Regions from separate parts of the Homo sapiens genome. Here region 1 is linked to region 2. A link means that fine-mapping ties the variant in region 2 to the expression of a gene that starts in the linked region. Tissue or cell type: whole blood. Region 2 holds a variant in brackets; the other region holds the start of a gene. All regions are shown on one strand. Distances are between the middles of the regions.

Region 1 (5,197 bases), 29 kb after region 2:
TTAAAAATACAAAAATTAGCCTGACATGGTGGCGCATGCCTGTAATCCCAGCTACCTGGGAGGCTGAGGCATGAGAATCACTTGAACCTGAGAGGCAGAGGTTACAGTGAGCTGAGATGGTGGCCAGTGCACTCCAGCCTGGGTGATAGAGTGAGACTCCATCTCAAAAATAAATAAATAAATAAATAAATAGAAAAAAGAAACACATCAATAGAAACATAGATATGAATAGGAAATTCACAAAAAATACACTTACCAAGTTAAATCAACCTTAAGTAAAAAATTCGTTCAAGATTGTAAAGTGAACTGTTAACATTTACTTCTCTTTCCTCCCTAAGTCCAACTGGAACTACATTTTTTAAATGAAAAAAAGTAAAGTATGCAACCTCATGAGAGAACTTGAAAAAAAAAAAGTAAAAAGGAAAAATATCCAAAGCAAAAAAAAAAAAAAAAAAAAAGCATTCCAAAGCAGTGCTGGAATACGAGGAGGGGTTTACAGTATACTTCTTTGGACCTGACGCCTAGCACTTTTCCCTTCTGAGAGAAAATCTGCCATCCCCACTTTAGTCGCCTGGTTCATGTGGGAAACTGAGGCTTAGAGACAGCAGAGCTGGGGAGTGGCAGCAGGATATTGTGGCAGGTGGTGGCAGTCGGGGACTTCAGGCTGTGGTCTCACACCGCCACACTGCCTTTCCCTTTTCTCACAGAGAACATTCAAATGGCTGTCTTTCTCTGGCAAGGTAGAAAGCCTCTCAAATAAGTAAGGAACATGCTTTGGTTAACAGCTAACGAGGCATTAGGTCTGGACAGGGAGACAAGCAGTGCAGCAGCCAAATCCCAGTGGACACTAGACACGAGGAAGAAAGCACGGTGCTGCCAGGGCAGGTCCTCCTCCCTCCTTCCTCCTTCCTCCATTAGGAGGATTCCTGAGCCTGCAAACCTGTTCCCTTTGTGCATCCTGGAGGGACAGCCCCTGCCCCATACCTTCCAATACCCTCACCAAACCAGATGAAGCTCACCCTCAAATTCCTGTGTGAAGTGAGAGACAAAAAAACCCCAAACCTGAAGTGTCTGAAATAAATGTCCAAATTATTTGAACAAAACCTGGGTAGGTAGAAACCAAAGGGTTTCACTTGAATGCTTGGCAGTAACGTCTCAACTGGTCTTTCCACCTGTGCTACAATCCACTGTGAAGTCCATTATTCCATTCTTGTACCAAGTCCCCTTCCACATTCCTTTCACTTCAGACATGTTTGCTGATGTTTACACCTCTCCATAGACTACCCAGCCTATCGTCGCATGCCCAAAGCTTTATTTCCCCAAACCTGCCCTGTGCCAGGGAAACTGCTCTCCAGTTCTCAGGATATTTATGCTATGTTCTCCCACCTCTTATGTCTATATTTTTTGTGGCTTCTTCCCTCTGCCTCAGATACCCCTTGGTAGTTCTACTGTTCTAAATCCTACCCCTATCCTATCCCTTCACTGCATCTCCAAGGCCATTTTCTCCACAAAGCTTTTCTTTAACACATGGGGCTGGTAGGTAAGCCATGAACATTTGTGGAACAAGGTAATCCTCCAAACAAGGGTGATTTTTCTTTCACTGAACCCTTCCCTCCCTTTGTGCTTCTTTTTGGAGCCTCACACTCTTCTGAATTTGTTGAATCCCCAACCAGCTGGAAATTCCCTAAGGCCCGAAACTGTTTCTGGCCTAGGCTGTGCTGATCTTCCTGGGACTAAGGGGTTTCCTGGGTCACAGATCTTCTGTGCTAAAACCAGGAAAGCCTCTGGTGACCCAGCATGTGTTGATCTCCCTAGTCTTGCCTGTCTTTGATTCCATGGATTATTAACAGAAACTATAATGTTGGGTTAATGTGTTGGCTTGGGCATGGCCTCCGAAACATGTTTTTTACATGTCTGCCACCAGCAGGCTCTAGATCCAGGAATGAGGCTTTTCCACTAAGGGAAAACTCCACGTGATCTAGGAAGAAAGTGAGGATATCCAACCAGATGATAAATTTCCTATCTGAAAGAGAAGGTCAACCCTGAAATAAGGAGGCTGAAGACCCTTAGAGAAGCCACAGAAGAGACTGGAAGAAGAGGGGTAGAGTTGCTTTTTTAATGGGGCTTCCAGCTCCTACTTTTCTTCCTGTCTGTAAGTCTCTGAGCTTCTGTTCCAGCTCTGTAAGGTTGGGGACGAGAATGCTCTCCCCACTGGACTGTTGAGAGTTCAATGAGGGGAAATGTGTGCATATACCAGGCCCCATGCTGGGTGCCCAGAGACGCTGCGCCTTCCTGGCATGCTTCTCTTCCCCATCGCTCAGCACCGCGTCCCTCACTCCCTCCACTCCCGATTCTCACTTCCTACTCACTGGCTTCTTCCTTCCCATCTTCCTCCAAACTTCCCATTTTCCACTATGTCTCTCTCACCGTATCTTTTTCACTTAAACAAAAATGGAATTCATAAAAACAGAGGCCAAAAGTCAGGATAAACCTGGAAAAATCACCAAGTACGCAAAGTTTTTCTTGCAAGGTTTGGTTTTTTCAAATGCCTTCTTTGTTTTCCTTGCCCATATCCTTCTTCGGAGAGTCAGGATTTGGGGTTTGCAGAGCTGTGTGGCAGTGGAATGTGGAATGTTCTCCTGAATCTCAGTCCCATGAAGAAAAGAGGCAAAAGTCCTGACATCTTTCCTGAGGATTGTCTGATTTAAAAGAGCTGATTCTCCCCAGGCAAATGACTTACCTTTGTTGTGCTGGGACAAGCTGAACAGGCAAGGAATAAACCTCCCTAGAACACACTGATTAGATTAGCCAGTGAGAACCACTGAAGACGCAGACATTAGATTAAAAAACAGAAAAATGAATGTTACTTTTACAGTGGCTATGAATAGACAAAGACTTTTTGGTTTGAAAATAGTTGGTGAGGCAATAGAGGAGGGGCTATGTTAATAGCAGAGATAGAAAAAACGAGAGGTGGATGGTTCCAACTGCAAGGTCCACCCTAAAGGAATTGGAGTCAGGGCCCAGGAGCCACAGGCCACTGCACTGGGGTAAGTAGAGTGGATTTTACATAAATAAAGTTACAGAGTGGTTGTAGGTTCTGGTTTGGAGATGTGAGTGAACCAACTGAATAGAATAGGCAGATTCCCCAGCCCACCAAGAGTCAGATGAGAATTTTATTGCTTTTTGCTAAAGGCCTGTACAAGACTTAGAGCAAAGATAAGGAGTAACCTGATTGTTGAAACTAATCTATAAGTATTCCAACATAGCAAAGGACAAGTAACGGAATGACGAGGTTTTCCTGTAGTAGTGTTGCGATTTTGTTCTGCTGTGTCCCCCTACTCCAGTTTCCTCTGTGAGGGGAGCGTGTAGTGTGTGCATATCTGTGGAATGTCAGACTTCTAAAGTCAGGGGCTGAGACCTATATCTAGTTAGACCTCTGTGCATATTCTTGAGCCATGGGAGTCTCAGTGGTTGATAGTACTTCACACTTCTTCCAGTTCAATAAGGGTTACCTATGGTGTCTCCTCTGAGTCTCCTAGGAGTCCAGAAAACATGAGACTTGTATAAGAATCCACACTTCAACTAAGCTTTCTGGCCCAAAGAAGGCATTGTTACCAAGGATCTGTTTCTTGAGGTCTTTAGGGAGTGAGAGGGAAGGAACGCATGAGGAACCAGAGCTAGTCCCCATCTCTCTCCCTAGAAGTGACAGACTGCATAGCTCTTATGTATCAGGAGTCCTGGAGATCAGCTGGCTTTCCTTAAAAAAGGGTCATCCAGCCGTGATGAAATCCTGACTTAGAAACCCAGTGCCCTTAGCTTTGTGGGCTTCTGTCCCTGAGAAATGGTGTTTTACCCTCCCTCCAAGCAGGCATCCCAGGATTTGGAATTCAGCTGTGAGCTCATGAGCTGATGGATGTTTCCAGGAGTACCCTGAAGACCACCCAGGTATGCTCTCCCCACCTCCTTTATTTTGGATGGACCAGTCTAAGGAGAGTCATCTTTTCCCACACCATTGGTGGCACTCAGTGAGTGGCTTGTTGCTTGACTGAATGCCTGCCCACACCCTCTCCAGTCAAGTTTATCTTGAGTAACTAAACACTTAGCAATGGAGACACTCATACATCTCCACTGCACTAGAAGTAGGGATGGTGGCCATGCCAACAAAGGAGATAACTTTAGCACAAAGGATGTCACAAGAAACAGATAGTAGAGTGTGTTCTCCAGTGTTATCATTTCCCAAACCAGAATCAACTGGTCTTGGGTTTCCTTCCCTCATCCTTCATCTGTAGAAAACTTTGTTTCTTGAGCTACTTCAGATCTACTTCCCTATCTTAAGAGGTGGGCTATGTGCTTCTTCTGCTAATTTATTATCTCAGAAGTACATAATTTGAGCAATTTTATATAGTTTTGAGGACAGGAGCCCTGTAAGAGTCTCTTACTCAGAAATGGATTCAGCTTGGTTTGAGGTTTAATAGGTCATTGCAATGCTCCCTTCTGGTATCACAGGACATAAGCTGGGTTGGGCGGAGTCCCCCTTTTGTGTCTTAGCCTTCCTCTCCTTACTCCAGAGTAAGAGCAGCCCTGATGGAAAAACAAAATTACCATCCATGCCTACTTCATTTCTGCCCCTCTTACTCTAAGTCTGGGCAATCCGCAACATCTTTTTATATTGGACTTCCTAGATCACAGACTCTTTTTTTAGGAAGAGTCAATTCAAGCCACCCAGGACTTATGATCCCTTGCTCTGTGTCGGGCACAGTGTGAGCACAGTAATGGCATGGGCTGCCTGATGTGGGGCAGTCCCTCTTGGTCAGCAATTCACTCAGCAGCCATCTCAGTGCCCCCTGTGTAAATTTGAGGCACTTTGCCAGGCTGTGGGAACAGTGTGGGGTTAAACAGCACATGGTCCTTGCCCTCAGAAAGCTTAAAATCCAAAGTCAGATACAAGGTTATTTAACAGATGCGTGTTAATTAACAATTAAAGCTAATGTGCACTGTTCCATTGAACAAACATGACTTATGTGGTAAAATCAGAAAGCAGCTTGATTTTTGTCTCTTACTGCTCTTTTACATTTACTCTTTTTTTTTTTTTTTTTTTGAGATGGAGTCTCGCTCTGTCGCTAGGCTGGAGTGCAGTGGCACAATAATTGGCTCGCTGCAACCTCCACCTCCTGAGTTCAAGCGATTCTCCTGCCTC
Region 2 (5,000 bases):
TAGAATGCCATTTCTGGGATAGCCCCTGGCCCAGTTTTTTGGAGCACGCTCTTGGGGGTGGGCAAGGGAGGGAAGAGAGGAGCCAAAACCTGTTCTTTGGAGAAAGAAGCAGGACAAGCTCTGCGCATGACTGTCATGAGGAGGAGGAGCCAGCAAAGCCCTAGATGGTTGCTAGGTGACTGAGGAGCAGTGGCTCCACCCCCATGGAGCAGAGGAGGGTGGGTGCATGACGTCAGGTGGAGCTGGTGCTGCGGCCACTGAGGCTGCCATCAGCCTAAGCTGGTGAACTGGGCCAGGCACCGCTCCGGTGCCTGCCGGAGCCTGGCGATCCAGCTGCACGTCTGCGGGGGCCTCTGTGTCAGAGCGGCGGCCGTTTGCAGGCTGGGAAGCTGCCGCACCGGGAGGCTGAGACTGCATTGTTGGGATTTGATGCACTAATCTCCTGTCTCCGCCGCCTTTCCCTCTGTTCGGTCTCTTGCCCTCCCTCCCTTCGTCTGTCCTTCCTCCGTGTGTTTGTCTATCCTCCTCTGTCCCTCCTCTTTCCTCTCCTTGCTTTCTTTGGTTTTCTGCAATGATGAGACAGGCACCGACAGCCCGAAAGGTACTCTTGCTTGCTCTCGTCCTGCTGCTGGGTTGCCAGGGCAATGGTGGCAGCAGGCTGCTGGGGTGGGGGTGGGGGCTGATTGACTTCATCTGTCTACCTGGTCGGGGAGGCGGGTGAGGACGAAGGTGGGTTAGGGAGAGGTGTGTGTCACCACTATGCCCCACACCCTGGGCATTTGCTTACTGCCTTGCCTGCTTTTGGCTCTGCCTGTGTTCCAGGCCTTAACACCCAGTGGCCTCACAGGCTTGGGCTTCAGGCAGCCTCTACCGCATACCGGATCTGGGAGGGTTTCCTGTGGTAGAACCTAGGGAAGCAGGCCCAGGTATCTCAGTGCCTCTAGCAGGCCTGCCTGCCTCACCCAACCTTTGCTAGAATACCTCTTGGTTGTTCTCCCAGTATCCCCCAATCCCCAGGATTTGTATCAGGGCACTTTACCAGGGTGGGATGGGGAACCTAGAATAGTCTTTGACCCACAGCTGTGGAAGCTTAGCCCAGGGTAGAAGAGGTGGGAATTGGCCTCAGTGTATGCTGGAAATAGGGCCCAAGCCAAATCTTGTCTTGGCTAGAGCAGTGAGATACTGGGTAGCAAGAACACTATTTGGAAATTGGAGTTAATTGTCCACTTACCATTTTGCAGTAACCTGAAGGGGCTGTAGTTTCTCTGTGCTGCTGCCCACCCCCACCTCCTTTCCTACAGCTGGGTGGGGTTACTTTGCTGAGCTCTGGGCTTCTGCTAATGCAATATTCATGGTCCTGACACCTGAGCCCTCTTCCCTAGTGATCGGGACTGCTGCAGGATCTGGTTCTGGGGAAGGGGGTTGGGGGAGGGAGGACAGCAGCATTGTTCTACCCTAGGGACCTGATCTCCCATTTCTGGGCTTAGATTACGCTCGTCACATGGGGTTTCTAGGGAGTTCTGTGTAGAGTCTAGCACTTGAAGGAAGAGGCTGACCTGGGAAAGTCCTTGGGAGTGGTGGCTGGGCGGGGCCTCTGGCTCTGGACTGGAGTTGGAGAGATCGTTAGCAGGAGGACTGGTCTCATGGGACCTTCTCACTAGCTGCTTCCTTGTTCTATGGCTCAGCCTAGAGATGGACTTCTGGGATTTCTGGGGTGTCTGAAGGGGTGAGGCCTGCAAGGATTGGACAAAAGTGGGAGCAGGAACCAAGGGGAACAGGAATTCTGGGTTCCTGAAGTAGGAATACAGTGATTCACTGAAGGGAGAAGGGGATGGGATGGGGGGGAGGGTGGCTAACTGTAGCCCCATTCCTGTTATTTCTTCTGCTCTCATTGCTGTCCCTTTTGCTCTCTGTCTTTCTGCCATTGTCCTTTCTTTCCTGACTACTTCTCTTCTGGCTCCTGTTGCCTGTCCAGACCACAACTCGGCGACCCAAGGTGAGAAAACAGGCCCCTGTGTGAGCCACTGCTGAGTGTACACACACGTTTCAGGCATGTGGATGTATGAGGGCACGTGTATGAGCAAGTGAAAGTTCGTCATAGTGTATCCTGGGTTCTCTTCAGAGGAAAGGGTGGGGGTTCGCAGTGCTGGCAGGCACCTCCTGGGGAAAATGGCTTTTGGCTTTTAGGAGGTTGTCTAAGCCAGTAGCTTGAATGCAAAAGAGAAATGAATGGGGTTGTGGTGGTTAATCAAAGCAGGCTTTCTTGAACAAGGGAATTTTGACCAGTTTTGATGGGAGGGATTGGAAGAAAGATGAACTTGGCCATGTAAAATGTCAGGGGATAAGGAGGTGAGTGTGTCTGTGACAGGCCTTGGGTGGGGATGTCTGAGGATTGCACATGATCTCTGAGTGTCAGCCCACTGGGAGACCTTGGGGCTCAGCACTTTGAGCACATTGGCAGGCCTGTCTGCTCCAGGGCTTGAACTTCAGGTCAGCTCCTCTGCCCACCTTCTCCCCTGCCCCACAGGGGCATGGATAGTGTTGCCAGATCGGGGGAGATGACGAAGAGTTGTTTCAAGGGGGAGTCTAGGGGTACAACTTTCACCTTGGCCCTTTTACCTGCAGGGTCCTCTGAAATAGACTGAGAGAGGGAGATTCAGCTTGACTCCCAAAGAGGGCTTA[G/A]CAGGGGTAGAGAGCCTGGCACCCCCACTTTTGGCCCAACCTTCTGTGGAAATTAGATTGTACTTTTTCCGTCTAGGGGTGGAGGGCATAGACCTGGAGCAAGGATGGGACTGAGAGTATAATGGAGTTGCTAGAATGATCACAAGTGGGTCATAGATGGGGGTTCTAGGGAATAACGGATTCTGCTCTTAAGGGTAGTGCCAGAGCTAGGAGGAATGTGGAGTCAGTGCCAAGCGAGGAGCCTTATAATCTTATGTCTTTCTCTTATCTTTTCCTCCCTCTCTCCTCTGCCTCCATCCTCCCCCTGTCCTTTGTCACTATCTCTCTCTGCCTCTCTGTATCATTTTCCTTGTCCCCTTCATTCTTCTTTTCTCACTGTGCTTTGATACTCTCTTTCTGCTTTTTCCCTTTTCTGTCTCCTTCCCTTGCCATATTCTCATATTCTGTTTCTGTTCCTCTTACTACCCCTATCCTCTGCTTTCTTTCTGGTCTGCCTCTACCCTTTCTGAATAGCCCACGCGCCCAGCCAGTACTGGGGTGGCTGGGGCCAGTAGCTCCCTGGGCCCCTCTGGCTCAGCGTCAGCAGGTGAGCTGAGCAGCAGTGAGCCCAGCACCCCGGCTCAGACTCCGCTGGCAGCACCCATCATCCCCACGCCGGTCCTCACCTCTCCTGGAGCAGTCCCCCCGCTTCCTTCCCCATCCAAGGTAAGGCCTGGGGTAGGGGTAAAGGAGAATCAAGACACCCAGAGGCTTGTGGCTACCCGCTGTGTCTTGAAAATTTCCTGGGGTTGGCAAAGACCTAGAACTTGGATCAGAAAGGGTGAGGACATAGCCTATGGATATCTTGCTACTGACTGAGCCATCCTTTCCTTTCTTGCCCTTATGCCATACTTTCCCCATATATACTGTGCTACGGTTTCCTCTCAGATGTTCTTATGCCACTGACTGTTGGCCACCCTGGGGCTGGGTGATGTTTGCACACTTTCTTGTGTTCTTTGCGCCAGCTCAGTGTTGGTGGAGAGGAGGAGTGGGCTGTGCACAGACCGTGAGGCCTCTCCTTTGCAGGAGGAGGAGGGACTAAGGGCTCAGGTGCGGGACCTGGAGGAGAAACTAGAGACCCTGAGACTGAAACGGGCAGAAGACAAAGCAAAGCTAAAAGAGCTGGAGAAACACAAAATCCAGCTGGAGCAGGTGCAGGAATGGAAGAGCAAAATGCAGGAGCAGCAGGCCGACCTGCAGCGGCGCCTCAAGGAGGCGAGAAAGGTTTGACTCTGGATGAAGGGGGTGGCTGGGGCAGCCTGAGACCTAAGGAAGCATGCTGGAAACTAGACTGGAGCTGGAGCCTGGAACATACTGTGAGAAAGGCCTGGGGCATCTCTGTGCTGGTACCCCCTCCCACCTCCACTTCTTCCTCAGGAAGCCAAGGAGGCGCTGGAGGCAAAGGAACGCTATATGGAGGAGATGGCTGATACTGCTGATGCCATTGAGATGGCCACTTTGGACAAGGAGATGGCTGAAGAGCGGGCTGAGTCCCTGCAGCAGGAGGTGGAGGCACTGAAGGAGCGGGTGGACGAGCTCACTACTGACTTAGAGATCCTCAAGGCTGAGATTGAAGAGAAGGGTAAGGGGCCCACAGCTGCTGGGGGCCAAACGGTCAGGTGAGAACCATGCCTGAAAGTGTTAATGATCTTCTCCAGGCTCAGATGGCGCTGCATCCAGTTATCAGCTCAAGCAGCTTGAGGAGCAGAATGCCCGCCTGAAGGATGCCCTGGTGAGGTAGGGTCTTCAGTGCTTGCCTCTGATGCTTACTCTTGTGTCTCCAAATGTGTTAGAGCACCCATCGCCAGAGACTCTGACACGTGCTTTCCTCCTTCTGCCTTCCTCACATCCCTGCAGGATGCGGGATCTTTCTTCCTCAGAGAAGCAGGAGCATGTGAAGCTCCAGAAGCTCATGGAAAAGAAGAACCAAGAGCTGGAAGTTGTGAGGCAACAGCGGGAGCGTCTGCAGGAGGAGCTAAGCCAGGCAGAGAGCACCATTGATGAGCTCAAGGAGCAGGTCTGGGGAGCCCAGCCCCTCACCCAGAATCCCCCACCTGACTCTCCTATCAGTTGATGCCTCCTCTTTCTAGGTACCTTCCAGCAGCCCTTCTCCCTATCCTCCCCGTAACACAGGTGGATGCTGCTCTGGGTGCTGAGGAGATGGTGGAGATGCTGACAGATCGGAACCTGAATCTGGAAGAGAAAGTGCGCGAGTTGAGGGAGACTGTGGGAGACTTGGTAAGAGAAGAGCAGACCCCTGACATCTGACTTGGACCTGC

Evidence for each region. PIP is the estimated chance that this variant, and not a neighbour inherited with it, causes the effect. A credible set is the group of variants that fine-mapping cannot tell apart.
Region 1: SLC4A5 starts here. The variant in region 2 is the best candidate, but not a certain one, in a credible set for the expression of SLC4A5 in whole blood (INTERVAL, PIP 0.59).

What each region holds. Positions count from the first base shown.
Region 1 is chr2:74,341,206-74,346,402 of GRCh38, reverse strand. It overlaps SLC4A5 (solute carrier family 4 member 5), which reads left to right and starts at 2,987. Exons shown (of 31, transcript NM_133478.3): 1 at 2,987-3,047; 2 at 3,869-3,945.
Region 2 is chr2:74,369,924-74,374,923 of GRCh38, reverse strand. DCTN1 (dynactin subunit 1) reads left to right here. Exons shown (of 32, transcript NM_004082.5): 6 at 584-601; 7 at 1,976-1,996; 8 at 3,196-3,387; 9 at 3,748-3,945; 10 at 4,099-4,303; 11 at 4,380-4,458; 12 at 4,579-4,738; 13 at 4,855-4,959. Among named protein-coding and RNA genes, the nearest start is that of DCTN1, 7.9 kb to the left of the region's middle. The variant G/A (reference allele first, on the strand shown) is at 2,683.